Linked DNA regions of Homo sapiens: region 2 is linked to region 1. The links come from fine-mapping of genetic effects on gene expression. A gene starts in region 1. The other region holds a variant in brackets. All regions are shown on one strand. Distances are from middle to middle.

The links.
Region 2: its variant is fine-mapped to the expression of RNF207 in sigmoid colon (GTEx, PIP 0.96). The same link has a PIP of 0.9 or more in esophagus mucosa.

Annotation. Positions count from the first base shown.
Region 1 is chr1:6,200,989-6,209,305 of GRCh38, reverse strand. It overlaps RNF207 (ring finger protein 207), which reads right to left and starts at 3,187. Exons shown (of 18, transcript NM_207396.3): 1 at 3,004-3,187; 2 at 2,580-2,770; 3 at 1,795-1,927; 4 at 281-425; 5 at 110-191; 6 at 1-38. The coding sequence starts at 2,770. It overlaps RNF207-AS1 (RNF207 antisense RNA 1), which reads left to right and starts at 3,526. Exons shown (of 3, transcript NR_125997.1): 1 at 3,526-3,552; 2 at 3,893-4,100; 3 at 4,324-4,466. RefSeq lists silencers at 189-258, 303-597, 2,745-2,914, 3,863-4,157 and enhancers at 3,115-3,344, 2,992-3,811.
Region 2 is chr1:6,230,004-6,238,320 of GRCh38, reverse strand. It overlaps ICMT (isoprenylcysteine carboxyl methyltransferase), which reads left to right and starts at 2,357. Exons shown (of 5, transcript NM_012405.4): 1 at 2,357-2,604; 2 at 3,347-3,435; 3 at 4,678-4,847; 4 at 6,202-6,419. The coding sequence starts at 2,410. ICMT-DT (ICMT divergent transcript) reads right to left here and starts at 2,081. Exons shown (of 5, transcript NR_103534.1): 1 at 1,985-2,081; 2 at 1,171-1,355; 3 at 976-1,076; 4 at 473-507; 5 at 1-100. RefSeq lists an enhancer at 1,152-2,124 and silencers at 2,089-2,418, 2,629-2,688. The variant C/T (reference allele first, on the strand shown) is at 4,386.

The DNA of each region.
Region 1 (8,317 bases):
AAGCCGATTCCAGGTCCACGCAGTGTGCCCGGCTCTCCCTGCAGAAGGCGGCGGGTGAGGCCCGCTCCAGCGGCCCCCAGCCCCCTCCCCTCGCGTCCCCTGTACGCACTTCTGCATGTCGCGGAAGCAGCGGATGCACAACAGCAACTTCTTGTCGGTGGAGAACAAGAGGTAGGGCTCTGCGTGCAGCGCTGCGGGGGCGGCGGGCGGTGGTGAGGGCTCCGGTCAGTGCCCGCCCCGCCCCCACCCCCAAGTCCCCGGCCCCGCAAGCCTCACTCACTGCACTTCTGGGGCACGTCGCGGCTTCGCTGACCCAGGGCCACGATGTCGTGGCGCGCGAACATGCGTGCTCGGTGCGTCTCGTCGCGGCAGCGCGCGCATAGGGGCTGTCCGCACGTGTTGCAGAAGTACGTGGTCTCCACGTCCTGCGGGCCGAGCGCGGGCTCAGGAGCGCCAGAGCCCGACCGCGGCCAGCGCGGGAACCGCAGCCGCCGCGTGTCACTGCGCGTGTTTGTCCCAGCCGTGGCCGGGTGCGCAGCTAAACGCAGCCCTTTCCTGTAATCCAGGCACTTGGCGCTCTGATATACCCACTTTACAGAGGAGGGCACTGCGGCTCAGAGGCTGGGTAAGTAGGTCCGTGGAGGGGGGTGGGGGACGCGGGGAGAGGGCAGAAACTGCCTTTATAAAACATTTTACCGAGGCCGGGCGCGGTGGCTCACGCCTGTAATCCCAACAATTTGGGAGGCCGAGGCGGGCGGATCACCTGAGGTCAGGAGCTGGCCAACATGGCGAAACCCTGTCTCTAATAAAAATACAAAAATTAGCTGGGCATGGTGGCGGGCGCCTGGAGTCCCAGCTCCTCGGGAGGCCGAGGCAGAAGAATCACTTGAACTCGGGAGGCAGAGGTTGCTGTGAGTCAAGTTGGCGCCACTGCACTCCAGCCTGGGCGATAAAGCAAGAATCCGTCTCAAAAAAAAAAATTTTTTTTTTTTTACCTGCAACAAAAGGGTGTGAGGGCCTCTCACGGCCCCCTTGGCACACTCAATAGTGGCCGAAAGGTGGTGTACACCCTGGCCATCTGGAGTCACACTTGGGGGCGGGGGGAGGGGAAGAGCAGTGAGGGCTTTAAGGTTCTCCTCCCCAAGCCAGACCCAGGGCTGGGATTCCAGGGCTTGGCCTGCAGCCCTGGTATGGACGCATGCAATGATGGACATAACAGGCCCTACCTGCAGTCCCTACCTCCTGCTAATCCTCTCTGTACGTCTGGGTCACACATTGCTCAGCACTTGTCCAGAACGCTGGAGCTTTTGCCCCAGTCGGGCCGTCCTCCTGGGATTCCCGATACATTTTCTGGCCTCCGCAGGCCAGAGTCCCCTGTGCCTTTTACAGCCCAGAGGGAACAGCATGCTGTCCCCACCTCCCCTGGGCTGTAGCTGCTTCTATGCCACTTGGGTAGCAGAGGCCCTTCAGGGTCGGCCCAGGCCTGCAAACTGGACTGCCCCTCCTGTGCAGGTCCACAACTCCACCCTGAATTGGGGACCAGTGAGCTCTCCCCAGATCGAATGGCCTTAGCCTCTGCCACTGTCTGGACACTGGCTCAAGTCCCTTGTTCTGGACCTCAGTCTCCCCACCGGTATAATGGGGTTCACATTTGGGGCCAAGGTGCCCTAGGGAGGTGCTGGAGAATCCACTGCCAGGTCGTCCTCTGAAGACATGCTGAGTGCATGTGCAAGCATTGGGGACTGTGCAACCGGGTACCCTCTGCTCCTCACCCACCCGCCCTGCCGCCCCTGCCTGCTCGCTGCACTCCAGGTCACAGTTGGCACAGCGCACCGCCTCCACGCCATCCCCTGAGCTGTCCACCAGGAACTGCAGCAGCCGGTCCACCGGCGGGAGCCCGCTGGGACCCTTCAGCACCGTCTGGTGTCTGCAGAGAAGCCCAGGCCCCGAGATTCTGATACCCCTTCCCCAGGGCTCCCCACCCCCACCCCTCACATTCCAGGCTGGAGCTAAAAATAGCTGTGTTGGGAGGTGGGGTGCACCACAGCTCTGGGGTCTGCTATAAATATCACAGCCAGCACTCACCCTGCCCTGGTCCCTACCCTTGCCCAGTCCTGGGCACTCCTGCAGACAGTGGGGTTGGTCCCCTAGTATCAAAAGCAGAAGCTGCTCCTCGACATCTTCTCACGGCATTGGGCAAATCAGAGCCACTCCTGGGTTCCTTGAGCCCACATAACTGAAACTGTGGTTTTGTGGACCTAAGACTTCTAGGACCCCCAAGCGAGTAACCGGGAGCGTCCTGACCAGTGCTGGAGCCCCGCCCTTACCCTCTGACTTTTGATGGGAGGTCTTGGGCCAGTAACTGCAATCTCCAGGCTTCAGTTAAGCTGATCTATAAAATGGACCGAAGCCTGCAACTTCTGGCGGGGAGAGCTAAGGACCGGGTGCAGTATCTCCCAGTCGTTCTGCCTGAAGTTGGAGCCTTACTCTCCTGGCACCTGGGTCCCAGCTCGGGCAGAGCCAACCTTGGGCCCGGGGGATGGGGTCTGGGGGGTTTTGGGGAACTTTGGGACACTTACTGGCACAGCGGGCAGGTGAGGCGGCCGTCGGTCGCGCGGCCACGCAGGCAGCCGGCACAGAAGTCGTGGAAACAGTCCAGAAGACACGGGCGCTCGTACTGCACGTGGCACAGCGGGCACACCAGCGGGTGGATGCTCGGGGCATCCAGGGAGCTCGGGCCCTCCAGGGGCCCGAAGATAGCTCCCGACATCTGCAGCGACAGCGCAAGCGGGCGGCTGGGGCACGCACGGAGCCCCGCTTGAGCTCCCGCGGCCCCTCTGCCCGGGCGCCCGCGCCCTCCCTATCGCGCCTGGACCCGACTGGGCGTCCAGAGGTCATGGAGTGGGGAGCCGCTAGGGCCCAGGTTAGGGCTGGGGCCTGGAGCTCCCCGGCGCAGGGAGAACAGGCAGTGAGGACTGGCGAGGGGCGGGGCCTTGTACCTACCCGCTGGGCCGCTTTGCTGGGAGCTACCGGTCCTCCGAGCCTCTCTCCCGCCGTCCAGCGCTCTTAGTGCGGCTCCGGGCCGCGCTCTGAGACACCGCGCGGTCGCTCTGCCGAGGAGTAGCCGGCCCTGGAAGTTCAGGCCCGCACCGGGCGATGGTTCCCACTCTGCGCGGGGCCTCCCTCTGCCGTGGCCTCTCCTACCTCTCCTCACTCCCACCCTCGGAATTCCCCGCCGGGTGTCCTCTGGGTGACCCGCAGGCGACGCCTCTTCCGGCATCCACCTTCCCCAGGGTGGCTGCTGCCTTGAGGCGCGGCGGGGCCGAACCGACCTCCGCGCTCGCCATCTGCTTTGCGCACTGGTTCCGGCCCGGCCACTCCACCTCCAGCCCGCGGGGAGGAGAGGCCAGGACGCCAAGGCTCCAGGGACGGTGCCAGGCAAGGGTGCAAGGATCGGACTGGCCCCTGCCCGGCATGACAGAGTCCGGAGCCCCAAGACCAGAGCGCCGCGCAGAGCGGGGCCGGAGGACCTTGGCTGCGGGGTCTTCAAGGGTAGGCCGGGCGCGGTGGCTCACGCCTGTAATCTCGGCACTCTGGGAGGCCGAGGCGGGCAGATAGCTTGAGGTCAGGAGTTCGAGACCAGCCTGGCCAACATGGCGAAACCCTGTCTCTACTAAAAATGCAAAAATTAGCCAGGCATGGTGGCGCCCTTCGGGAGGCTGAGGCAGAACTGCTTGAACCCGGGAGGCGGAGGTTGCAGTGAGCCGAGATCGCGCCACTGCACTCCAGCCTGGGCTACAGAGCCAGACTGTCTTAAAAAAAAAAAAGAGTCCAAACCCCACCCCCTACCCCCGCTAATCCCCACTCTTCCATCCCATTTGGGTCTGAACAGGTCATCGCCGCCTCATTTCCTCGGCGGCCAATTGGGGGCGCCAGAGAGCAGCGGACGCCCCTCCACCGACTTTCCAGCGCTTGGGAGGCGGAGTGAGACGCCCTGTAATCCCAGCCCTGCCTTTCGCTGGTTGTGAGCTCTTGGCCATGTTACTGACCTCTCAGAGCCTCAGCGCTGGGTTAAAATAGAACTGGTGTCCTGATAATGGGTGAGGCCCCAGTGGAATAACGCACGTGAAATACACATACTGGGCGTCCACTTAATTAAGGCCCTATCCTCATTGCCTGCCAAGTTCCCAAAAGAGGGATGGGTTTGGGTGGGAGGTTGAGAGGGGAGGTTCCCGGCCTTTCCAGCAGTGCCCCCTCTGCCGTCTGGGCCTGGCAGATGCGTGTTGATCCCAGCGTTTTCTCCAGCGTGCGCTCGCTTGCTAGGTCGACGTGATCAGTGAGCTTTCTCCGCCCGTGTTCTCCTGAGTGTCCTGAGAGCAGCCCGTTTCTGCCCCTCTTGCGATTACAAAGTCAAGCCCAGAGCCTGACCCACAGTAGTGCTCAATAAAGGCTTAGAAAAAGCTCGGAGATATTTGAGCTGTTTTCGTTTTGTTTTGTTTAAGACAGGATCTCACTCTGTCGCCGCGTGATCATATCTAACTGCAGCCTTGGCTTCCTTCCACCTCAGCCTCCCAAGTAGCTGGGACTACAACCACGCACCACCATGCCCGGCTAATTTTTTGTATTTTTAGTAGAGACGGGGTTTCACCATGTTGACCAGGCTGGTCTCGAACTCCTGACCTCAGGTGATCCACCCACCTTGGCCTCCCAAAGTGCTGGGATTACAGGTGTGAGCCACTGAACCCAGCCTTTTTTTTTTTTTTTTTTTTGTATTTTTAGTAGAAAAATAAAAAGTACAATGTGCTGCACACATCGGGGGTTTTGCTGTGTTACCCAGGCTGGTCTCCAACTCCTGGGCTCAAGCATTCTGCCTGCCTTGGCCTTCCAAAGTTGCTGGGATTACAGACGTGAGCCGCCTTGCCTGGCCTTGAGCTGGGTTTTGAAGGATGCGTAGGAGTAGGAGTTTGCTAGGAGAAGGAAGTGAATTCTAGAGAGAAACTAGCTGTTCTTTTGAGGACTGTCCCTAGCCCTGGTTCTTTTTTTTTTTTTTGAGACTGAGTCTCATTCTGTCACCCAGGCTGGAGTGCAGTGGCGCAATCTCGGCTCACTGCAAGCTCCGCCTCCTGGGTTCACGCCATTCTCCTGCCTCAGCCTCCCGAGTAGCTGGGACTACAGGTGCCCGCCACCACGGCCGGCTAATTTTTTGTATTTTTAGTAGAGACAGGGTTTCACCATTCACAGGATGGTCTCGATCTCCTGACCTCGTGATCCGCCCCACCTTGGCCTCCCAAAGTGCTGGGATTACAGGCGTGAGCCACCATGCCCGGTCCCTAGCCCTGGTTCTATTTGTGGACCAAATCATAATGACAGTAGTAGCAATGGCTAATGTTTATGTGTTTATAGGCCAACATTCTTTTATGGGCCAAGATTCTTTTTTTTTTTTTTTTTTTGAGATGGAGTTTTGCTCTTGTTGCCCAGGCTGGAGTGCAATGGCGCCATCTCAGCTCACCACAACCTCCGCCTCCCGGGTTCAAGCGATTCTCCTGCCTCAGCCTCCCGAGTAGCTGGGATTATAGGCATGTGCCACCGCGCCTGGCTGATTTTGTATTTTTAGTAGAGACGGGGTTTCTCCATGTTGGTCAGGCTGGTCTCGAACTCCCGACCTCAGGTGACCTGCCCGCCTCTGCCTCCCAAAGTGCTGGGATTACAGGCGTGAGCCACCACACCGGGCCTTTTTTTTTTTTTTTTGTACAAGGGGAGGGAGGGTGGGGAGATATGGGCCAATATTTTATTCTAAGCTGTTTAACTTATATTAACTCATTTAATCTGGAGAACACTCTTAAAAAGTAGAAAATATTACCCCAGAAAGTGGTGGAGCTGGTATACAAAACCGCGTAGGTGCTTTGTTAAGGAATGATGCATTAGTTTCCCGGTAGGAGGTGAGTGCTTCATTCATCCATTCATTCATGTCTGCATCTGTTCAACTAGTATTTACAGAGCATCTACCATGGGCACATAGAAGGGAACACACCAGCCAAGGTTAGTCAAGTACACAGATTAACAAATAATGACAGGCTGCATTAACTGCTTGGAAGAAAATCATAAGGATGATAGGCCGGGTGCCGTGGCTCACACCTGTAATCTCAGCACTTTGGGAGGCTGAGGTGGGCGGATCACCTGAAGTCAGGAGTTCGAGACCAACCTGGCCAACATAGTGAAAACCCGTCTCTACTAAAAATACAAAAATTAGCTGGGCACGATGGATCATGCCTGTTATCCCAGCACTTTGGGAGGCCGAGGCGGGTGGATCACGAGGTCAGGAGTTCGAGACCAGCCTGGCCAGCATGGTGAAACCCTGTCTCTACTAAAAGTACAAAAAATTAGCCAGGCATGGTGGCACGCACCTGGAGTCCCAGCTACTTCGGAGGCTGAGGCAGGAAAATTGCTTGAACCTGGCAGGTGGAGGTTGCAGTGAGCCGAGATTGCGCCATTGCACTCCAGCCTGAGTGACAGAGTGAGACCTCTGTCTCAAAAAAAAAAAAAAAAAAAAAAAAAAAGGAAAAAAAGGAAAAATTAGCTGGGTGTAGTGGTGCATGCCTGTAATCCCAGCTACTCTTGCGAGGCTGAGGCAGGAGAATCGAGATGGCGCCACTGCACTCCGGCTTGGGTGACAGAGTGAGATTCCGCCTAAAAAATTAAATAAATAAATAAGGATGATGAGATGGAGGGCAGTTGGGAGGGGCTCGAGCTGAGGACCACACTAGGTAACCATGAGCAGAGAGGGGGAACTGAGCTTGAGACCCCCAGAGGATAAGAAATTAAGAAAAGCCAGGAAGGCTGGGCGCAGTGGCCCACACCCGTAATCCCAGCACTTTGGGAGGCCAGCGTGGGTGAATCTCTTGAGCCCAGGAGTTCAAGACCAGCTTGGGCAACATAGCAAGACTCCCCCCTCTATAAAAAATACTAAAACTTAGCTGGGCATGGTGGCTCGTGCTTGTAGTCCCAGCTACTTGAGAGGCTGAGGTGGAAGGATTGCTTGAGCCAGGAGGTTGAGGCTGCAGTGAGCTGTGACTGCACCTCTGCAGTCCCACCTGGGTGATAGAGTAAGACCCTGTCTCGAAAGAAAAACAAAAATAGAAAAGCTGGGAAAAGTTCCAAGCAGAGGCAAGAGCAAGTGCAAAGCCCCAGAAATGGGAAGACATTTAGAGACTAGCAGATCAATGTGGCTGGAGATGAAGGAGCTCAGGGTGGGGAGTAGGGCTGAACATGGCATGGGAGTGAGGATGGAGGATGGGGGTGAGGCTGGAGAGGTGGGGGCGGGGCAGGGGGTGTGGGGTGAGGGATGAGGGTTTGAGTGTGGGGAGGTGGGGGTGAGGGTGAAGAGGTGAGAATGGGCTCATGAGGGTCAGGGTGATCTACGGGACACTAGTCTAGAGATGCCAAGGATGCCACTGGCTGTACCTGTGGGGAGTCCAGGGAGGGGTAGAGGCTGCACACATTGGCCTGGGGAGTCATATTTAAAGGGAAGAGCATGTGGGTCTTGTCTAAAGATCAAGTGTAGATAAGGACGGGAGGAGGCTGGGTGTGATGGCTCCCGCCTGTAATCCTAGCACTTTGGGAGGCTGAGGCAGGAAGATTGCTTTAGCCCAGGAGTTCTAGATCAGCCTGGGCAACATAGCCATAGTGAGACACCAACTCTCTACAACAGCAAAACAAAACAAAACAAAAAAACATGCAGCTGGGCATGGTGGTGCACACCTGTGGTCCTAGCTACTCAGGAGGCTGAGGTGGGAGGATTGCTGGAGCCTAGGATGTCAAGGCTTCAGTGAGCCGTATTCGCACCACTGCACTCCAGCCTGGGCAACAGAGCGAGAGCCTGTCTCAGAAAAAAAAAAAAAAAAAAGAAAGAAAAAGGAAAGAACAATAAAAGTCAACTGCTGAGAGGGAGGTTTAGGAAGAAGGGGCTGGCATTATGACTGAGGTGTGAAATAGTCTTTTGGGCCAGGTGCAGTGCCTTATGCCTGTAATCCCAGCAATTTGGGAGGCCAAGGTGGGAGGATCACTTGAGCCCAGGAGTTTGAGGCTGCAGTAAGCTATGATCACACCACTGCACTCCAGCCTTGGTGACAGAGCAAGACCCTGTCTCTATTAAAAACAACAAGAAAGGGAAATAGTCCCTTGGGGGAGAGATTTAGGATTGTCAGTAGCCCTGAGGGCTCGCTTAGGGTCCGTTATCAGCCAGGGTCCAGTCAAAAGACAACACATTATAGTTTTTAACTGAGAGAATTTAATATAAAGGATTGTTAACTAGGTATAA
Region 2 (8,317 bases), 29 kb before region 1:
TTTGCCAAGGTCACAAAGCTAGGCCGCAGAGGTGAGGGGTCCGGGATTCTGGCCCAGGCTCTCCATCCAGCTTCCCAGGTACCAGAGCTCCTGCCAGGACCTGCAGGGACAAGAGTGGAGAGGGGCTCAGATGCAGGGCTCACAGACCGCCTGCCTCTCTCGCTGACCCACCACTTGATGCCAGCCTCCCCGAGGGCCTGTCCCCATCCCTTCTCAGCCTTTCTCCCTCCCGCCTCTGTGCCTTTCAAACGCCAAGCCCTCACTCCCTCCTTGATCTCATTTCCAATGGAGGGCAGGCTGTCCATCCCCAAGGGCCCCAAGGCCTAGCTCTGGCGTCTGTTCCTCGCAGCCTCCTCGCCCTGCCGCCCTCCAAGCTGAGGGCCTCCCCTGGGGTCCCTCTTTGCTCCCCATCCTTGCTCTCCTTCTGCCCCCACTGCCACCCCTGCAGAGTTTATTCCAGTTGTTCACTTACTGGCTTTTCTCCTCCAGCGCAGCTCTCTGAGCTACCTGAGGTGAGAGAATTTACTCTTTAAAAAGTAAAGAAAAACTTGATTATAAAAGTAATCTATGGGCCGGGCACGGTGGCTCATGCCTATAATCCCAGCAGTTTGGGAGGCCGAGGCGGGTGGATCACCTGAGGTCAGGAGTTTGAAACCAGCCTGGCCAACATGGTAAAGCCCCGTCTCTACTAAAAATACAAAAAAATTAGCTGGCCGTGGTAGTAGGCTCCTGTAATCCCAGCTACTCAGGAGGCTGAGGCAGGAGAATCACTTGAACCCGGAGGCGGAGGTTGCAGTGAGCCGAGATTGCGCCATTGTACTCCAGCCTGGGCAACAAGAGCAAAACTCCATCTGAAAAAAAAAAAGTATCCTGTGTTCATTGTAGGCAGTATGGAAACTGCAAAAACAGATAAAGACAATAAAAATCACCAAGAGTGCCACTACCTAAAGATAGGCCAGGGGTGGTGGCTCATACCTGTAATTCCAGTGCTTTGTGAGGCTGATTGGAGGATCACTTGGGCCCAGGAGTTCCAGACTGCCGCACTCCAGCCTGGCCAACACAGTGAGACCCTGTGTCTAAAAAAGAAAAAAAGAAAAAAAAAAGGTACATATATAGTCGGCGTTATACCATTTTGGCTGATAGCTTGATCATTTTCCCAGGCTCAGATACCTGCCCTTTTTCCCCAAGTGAAGTCAGGATCACACCGAAAAGCTTTGCCTCCTGCTATTTAAAAACCTAATATAGGCAGGGCGCGGTGGCTCACGTCTGTAATCTCAGCACTTTGGGAGGCCGAAGCGGGCGGATCACGAAGTCAGGAGATGGATCCCGGCTAACACGGTGAAACCCCGTCTCTACTAAAAATACAAAAAAATAAGACGGGCGCAGTGGCGGGCGCCTGTAGTCCCAGCTACTCGGGAGGCTGAGACAGGAGAATGGCGTGAACCCGGGAGGCGGAGCTTGCAGTGAGCCGAGATCGCACCACTGCACTCCAGCCTGGGCGACAGAGCGAGACTCCGTCTCAAAAAAAAAAGAAAACCTAACATATCCTGAGCATTCCCATCACCGTCCAGCCTTGTTCCACAACAGGAATTTAAGCGGGCGGTGGTCCCGTTGCATGGATGCCCAGGTGCCGTTGTCCAGGCCGGTTTCCAGGGAGCCGCAGAGGGAGGGCAGGAGGTCGCCGCACTTGGCCCCGCGCCCCAGGGCGTCTGGTTTTCGGGGACGACGCAGGGCCGGCGAGGGTGCGGCCGTTTCAAAATTTTTTTTTTTGAGATGGAGTGTCACTCTGTCACCCAGGCTGGAGTGCAGTGACACAATCTCGGCTCACTGCAACCTCCGTCTCCCCGGATCAAGCGATTCTCCTGCCTCAGCCTCACCAAGTAGCTGGGGTTAAAGGCGTGCGCCACCACGCCCAGCTAATTTTTGTATTTTTAGTATAGACGGCGTTTCCCCATGTTGCCCAGGTTGGTCTCGAACTCCTGACCTCAAATGATTCGCCAGCCTCGGCCTCCCAAAGTGCTGGGATTACAGGCGTGAGCCACCGCGCTCGGCTCGTTTCAAACTTTACATTGCTTCTTGGGACAGGAACCTCCTGAGTTTGGGACTAAGTTTGGACAGACGCGGGCGGCGACTTCTCCCACCACTTCCCGGCCCCCGCCCGGCACAGAGTCTGGCTCAGAGCCCGGATGTCCCCGAGGGGCGGGGAGGGGCGGGCGGGCGGGGCGCTCCCGCCAAATTCCGGACAGCAACAGGGCGGGCCGGAGTTCTCGCGAGAACTGGCAGGCGGCGCGCAGCTGCGGGCAGCTGCCCTTCCCGGGCCGGCATCGGCGGCACAGTGCGCAGGCGCAGCCGGCGCGTTTCTCCGGGCTACAGCCGGCGCCGCCGCCCGCTAGTCCGCCGCCCGGCGCCATGGCGGGCTGCGCGGCGCGGGCTCCGCCGGGCTCTGAGGCGCGTCTCAGCCTCGCCACCTTCCTGCTGGGCGCCTCGGTGCTCGCGCTGCCGCTGCTCACGCGCGCCGGCCTGCAGGGCCGCACCGGGCTGGCGCTCTACGTGGCCGGGCTCAACGCGCTGCTGCTGCTGCTCTATCGGCCGCCTCGCTACCAGGTGCAGGCCGGCGGGGGCCGGCGGGGGCCGGCGGGGCGGGCGGCGGTCCGCTTGGCGCGGCGCGTGGGCACCTTTCTCCCCGGGCCCGCAGTGGCCTCCCACGCGCGCGCTCTTCATCCGCGAGTTCAGGTCGCAGGAGGGGACCCTCTCTCTCCGGGCTCGGGCGCCCTGCACCCGAGGAGTGGGTTGTTAAATTGCAGCTTGTGCAGCTCAGCAGGTGCGCGTGGGGTGGAGTGAGCGAGCCCGCGAGTGCTTTTATGTAACTTAAGGTGCAGAGACCTACCTGCTGCCCTGTCTCAGGTCAAAGGCCCCGCAGTGACGTGGGTGGGGCTGGGCGCACAGGCCCGGGTGCCCTGACCTCATAAACTAGGCTTAAGCAGTTTTCCTACAGCCCTGAATAGTAATCACGAATAATAATAATAATGACAGCTAAAATGTAGGTAGCAGTTAGTCTTAAGTGTTTTACGTGGGTAATCCTTACTGCAGTCCTAAAAGGTAGGTACTGTTATCCCCTGGCTGTAGATGGGGAAGCAAGCTCAGAGAGGTTAAATAATTTGGGAGGCCACACAGCCAGAGAGCGGTGGGTGCAGAATTTGAACCCAGGTCGCCCACTTCTCCCTTTCAACCTCAGCAAATCGGCTCTATCTGCTTGCCTGTGGGTTGCCTATTCCGGGAAGGTCAGCAGCCCAGATCTGTACTCTGAGGACTGTGAATGACTGAGCTTCTCTTGGGTTCCTTTCAGATAGCCATCCGAGCTTGTTTCCTGGGGTTTGTGTTCGGCTGCGGCACGCTGCTAAGTTTTAGCCAGTCTTCTTGGAGTCACTTTGGCTGGTAAGAATTCCTTCGGAAATACTGGTTTTCAGGCGAGGGTGGACAGATCAGAGGGTCTGTAGCGGCATTTCCTCATCCCTGTCTCATCTGTGACCGGCAGAAGGCTGTTCAGGGTTCTCTGGAAACGAAGTCTCCTGGCTTCCCCCTAGTTGCTCACATTTCAGCCCTTGTGATTTCGTGCCTGTGGGTTGATTGTGAATCAGGCAGAAACAGATCTCCCTGGCACCCCCAAAGGTGCTGTCATCCGCAGCTGTGGTGACAGCATTCCGTAACTTGAGCAGCCCTTCCCGGAAGGGGTGCAGGTCCTCGGTGGCGGGCAGGGGCAGGGCTCTGGCTTGTCTTCATGGGCCTTTTTCATCTCTAATTTCTATTAGGTCACATCTAGTGCATCCCCACAGCCACTGTAGGATTTTTCCCTACACTATGATTTCAGTCCCTTGAGCCTTCTAGTCTGACCTGGATATGAACCAGTGGCTTCAAGGTAAAAAGTTTTATCTCCTCTTATCAATATTTTGAGCCATCTAATCCTTCTTTGCCGGAATTATTTCAGTTTTGTTAAATTTTGTATCCGACATACATCACTCCTTTATGTTGTTATCTCCCTCTTTCATGTTTTATTGTGTGTAGTGTCATTTTTAACGGACAGAAGGGCCCATAATGCCTCTGTGACCTATGGGTTTGTTTTGCCTGTGACATTCAAAAACAGTCCCTTGCCGGGCGCGGTGGCTCACGCCTGTAATCCCAGCACTTTAGGAGGCCGAGGTGGGCAGATCACGAGGTCAGGAGTTCAAGACCAGCCTGGCCAAGCCAGGAGTTCGAGACCAGCCTTGCCAACATAGCGAAACCCTGTCTCTACTAAAAATACAAAAATGAACTGGGCGTGGTGGTGGGCACCTGTAGTCTGAGCTACTTGAGAGGCTGAGGCAGGAGAATCGCTTGAACCTGGGAGG[C/T]GGAGGTTGCAGTGAGCTGAGATCACGCAGTTGCATTCCAGCCTGGGCGACACAGCGAGACTCTGTCTCAAACAAAACAAAACAAAACACCAGAAACAAAAACAGCCCCTTAAAAACTCCACTTTTTGCAAACCTGAGGTAGTAGATGCTGCAGATGGGTACCTGTGTCCACTCTCAGACAGGTGAGAACAGGGCCTCATAGACTTAGGGACAGCTCAGGAGACCCAGATGTGCACTTATGGTTAACTTGGTTCTCTTGTCCCAACTTAACTCTCTTTTTGTCTTTAAATAGGTACATGTGCTCCCTGTCATTGTTCCACTATTCTGAATACTTGGTGACAGCAGTCAATAATCCCAAAAGTCTGTCCTTGGATTCCTTTCTCCTGAATCACAGCCTGGAGTATACAGTAGCTGCTCTTTCTTCTTGGTTAGAGTTCACACTTGAAAATATCTTTTGGCCAGGTTCGTGTGCCTTATGTCCCCCTCTGGAGGGGAAAAGGGTGGCTCCCATTCAGGCTGAGGACAGTGACATTGATTCACCTTTCAGGTCTAATCTCCCCCAAGCGATTTTCCGCAGACCTCTATCCTCACTAAGCTATTTATAAAGGATGAGCTCCGCTCATGAATTCTGCCTCTGGATATTGACTCGAGGACGTGCTGACCTTTTGCTTTAAAGTTTGCATCACATAGTGCACCATCTAATTTGAAGCCCCAACCTTGAGTAGTTGTGATTCTAATTTTATAATCAGATGATATTTAGACGTTTCATGTAAGAGTTTACTGGCCGGGCACGGTGGCGAACGCCTGTAATCCCAGCACTTTGGGAGGTCGAGGCGGGTGGATCACAAGGTCAGGAGTTCGAGACCAGCCTGGCCAATATGGTGAAACCCCGTCTCTACTAAAAATACAAAAAAGCCAGGCGTAGTGGCACATGCCTGTAATCCCAGCTACTCGGGAGGCTGAGGCAGGAGAACTGCTTGAATCCGGGAGGCGGAGGTTGCAGTGAGCCGTGATCGCGCCACTGCACTCCAGCCTGGGTGACAGAGCGAGACTCCCATCTCAAAAAAAAAAAAAGAGTTTACTAACAAGGTCGGGTGCAGTGGCTCACGCCTTTAATCCCAGCACTTTGGGAGGCCGAGGTGGGTGGATCACATGAGGTCAGGAGTTTGAAACCAGCCTGACCAGCATGGTAAAACCCCGTCTCTACGAAAAATACAAAATTAGCCGGGCCTGGTAGTGCATGCCTGTAATTCTAGCTACTTGGGAGGCTGAGGCAGGAGAATTGCTTGAACCCAGGAGATGGAGGTTGCAGTGAGCTGAGATTGTGCCATTGCACTCCAGCCTGGGCAATGAGAGTGAAACTCCGTCTCAAAAAATAAAAGCCTCCGTATGTGGAATGCACTCTGAAATTGAATGTCTCACAGCCAATGAAATGAAATACATGTGGCTCCTGGGATTCAGGGTGGAAACCTTGGACCCTTTTTTGCTTCTCTTAGCTATACTTGTCCCCAGATGAAGGACTGAGCATGTGGCCGGGGGTCGTGAACCAGAGAGCCCATCAGCTGTAGCAGGAGAGCATCTCTTTACCATGATGCTTTCATTGTGCTTATTGGTGTTTTAAAGTAAATTGATGAACAGCATAACTTAGGGGAATGTGTTTTCTTATGAAATTTTAATGTGATGACAAATGCTGATTGCCCAGCAGCACATTTTCTGTTTCTGTCTTCGGGAAAATAGGTTAATTTTAAGCAGTGCGAAGGGGAGCTCAGGCCAGTGTTTTCACTCCCCGTGTGTCGTTGATGTCTCTCTCCCACAGAACTGAAGCAGATTACCTGGCTCAGTGTCACAGGGCTGCTGATGGTGGTCTTCGGAGAATGTCTGAGGAAGGCGGCCATGTTTACAGCTGGCTCCAATTTCAACCACGTGGTACAGAATGAAAAATCAGATACACATACTCTGGTGACCAGTGGAGTGTACGCTTGGTTTCGGCATCCTTCTTACGTCGGGTGGTTTTACTGGAGTATTGGAACTCAGGTATAATATTAAATATGACACTGCTTTTCTTTTTTTTTTTTTTAAGTAACATTTTAAACGTGATATTCACGTAGCATAAAAGTCACCATTTCAAAATATACAATTAGTGGTTTTCAGTGTATTCATGAGGTTGTTGGTCTCCTTTAAATAATAGGTACATGTTCTTCTTGGCGCGTTTCAAGTGATAATTTAATAAAAGTCAAGAGAACTAATGTAGTCCTTAATGCTTTTCACTATGTGCCCAGAACCTGGGTGCGTAAGTCCTTGGTGATTCTTGGTGCTGTTAGCTACCTGCTGTATCCCTTCATCCTGTTTCTGCCTCTGTTTGTTTGTTTTCTTTTTTCTTTTTTTTTTTTTGGTAGAGACAGGGTCTTACTGTGTTGCCTGGGCAGGTCTCAAACTCTTGGCCTTAAGTGATCCTCCCACCTCAGCCTCGCAAAGTGCTAGCATTATAGGCATGAGCCATTGTGCCTCTCCCTTTCTCTGCCCCTTCAACCTATTAATAGATCTGAAGCACCCCAGAGGGGGTGAGGACAGAGATGGGGCTTAGGGAAGGGAGTGCCCTCTGTCACTCATGTGGCAGCTTGGCTAGTTTTCATCAGAAATAGGTATTAATGGGGCCGAGGCCATGTGTTAGTGAGCTGTGTGAGCCATGGAGGTTTGTTCTGTCTCAGGCTGAAGAAAAGGCCTTGTTTCGTTTCTTTTCTTTTCTTTCTTTCTTTTTTTTTTTTGAGACCTAGTCTTGCTCTGTTGACCAGGCCAGAGTGCAGTGGTGCGATCTTGGTTCACTGCAACCTCTGCCTCCCAAGTAGCTGGAACTGTAGGCACGAACCACCATGCCTGACTACTTTTCGTATTTTTTTTGTAGAGACAGGGTTTCTCGAGTTGCCCAGAGCCATCTTGAACTACTGAGCTCAAGCAGTCTGCCTTCCTGGGCCTCTCAAAGTGCTGGGATTACAGGCTTGAGCTACAGTGCCTGGCCTTTTTTTTTTTTTTTTCCTTTTTGAGATGGAGTCTCACTCTGTTGCCCTGTTGCCCAGGCTGGAGTGCAGTGGCATGATCTCAGGTCACTGCAACCTCTGCCTCCCAGGTTCAAGCGATTCTCTTGCTTCAGCCTCCTGAGTAGCTGGGACTACAGGCGCCCGCCACCACACCCGGCTAATTGTTTGTATTTTTAGTAGAGATGAGGTTTGACTGTGTTAGCCAGGATGGTCTTGATCTCCTGACCTCATGATCTGCCCGCCTCGGCCTCCCAAAGTGCTGGGATTATAGGCATGAGCCACCGTGCCCAGCTTTTTTTTTTTTTTTTTTTTTTAAAGACAGGATCTTGCTGTGTTGCCCAGCCTGGAGTGCAGTGTTCTGATCATGGCTCACTGCAGCCTTGACCTCCTGAGCTCAAGTGATCCTCCTACCTCAGCCTCCCAAGTAGCTGGAATACATTACAGGTGTTGCCACCACGTCCGGCTAATTTTTAAATTTTTTGTAGAGGTGGTTCTCCTGGACGGTTGCCTGTAATCCCAGCACTTTGAGAGGCTGAAGTGGGTGGGTCACTTGACATCAGGAGTTTGAGACAAGCCTAGCCAACATGGCAAAACCCCATCTCTATTAAAAATACAAAAATTAGTTGGGCCTGGTGGCACATGCCTATAGTCTCAGCTACTCGGGAGGCTGAGACCTGAGAACCGCTTGAACCTGGGAGGTGGAGGTTGCAGTGAGCTGAGATTGTGCCACTGCACTCCAGCCTGGGTGATGGAGTGAGACTCTGTCTCAAAAAAAAAAGAGATGGTTCCTCCTTTGTTGCCCATGCTGGTCTTGAACTCCTGGGCTCAAGCCATCCTCCTACCTTGGCCTTCTAAAGTGCTGGGATTAGGCCAGGCATGGTGGTTCTTACTTATAAT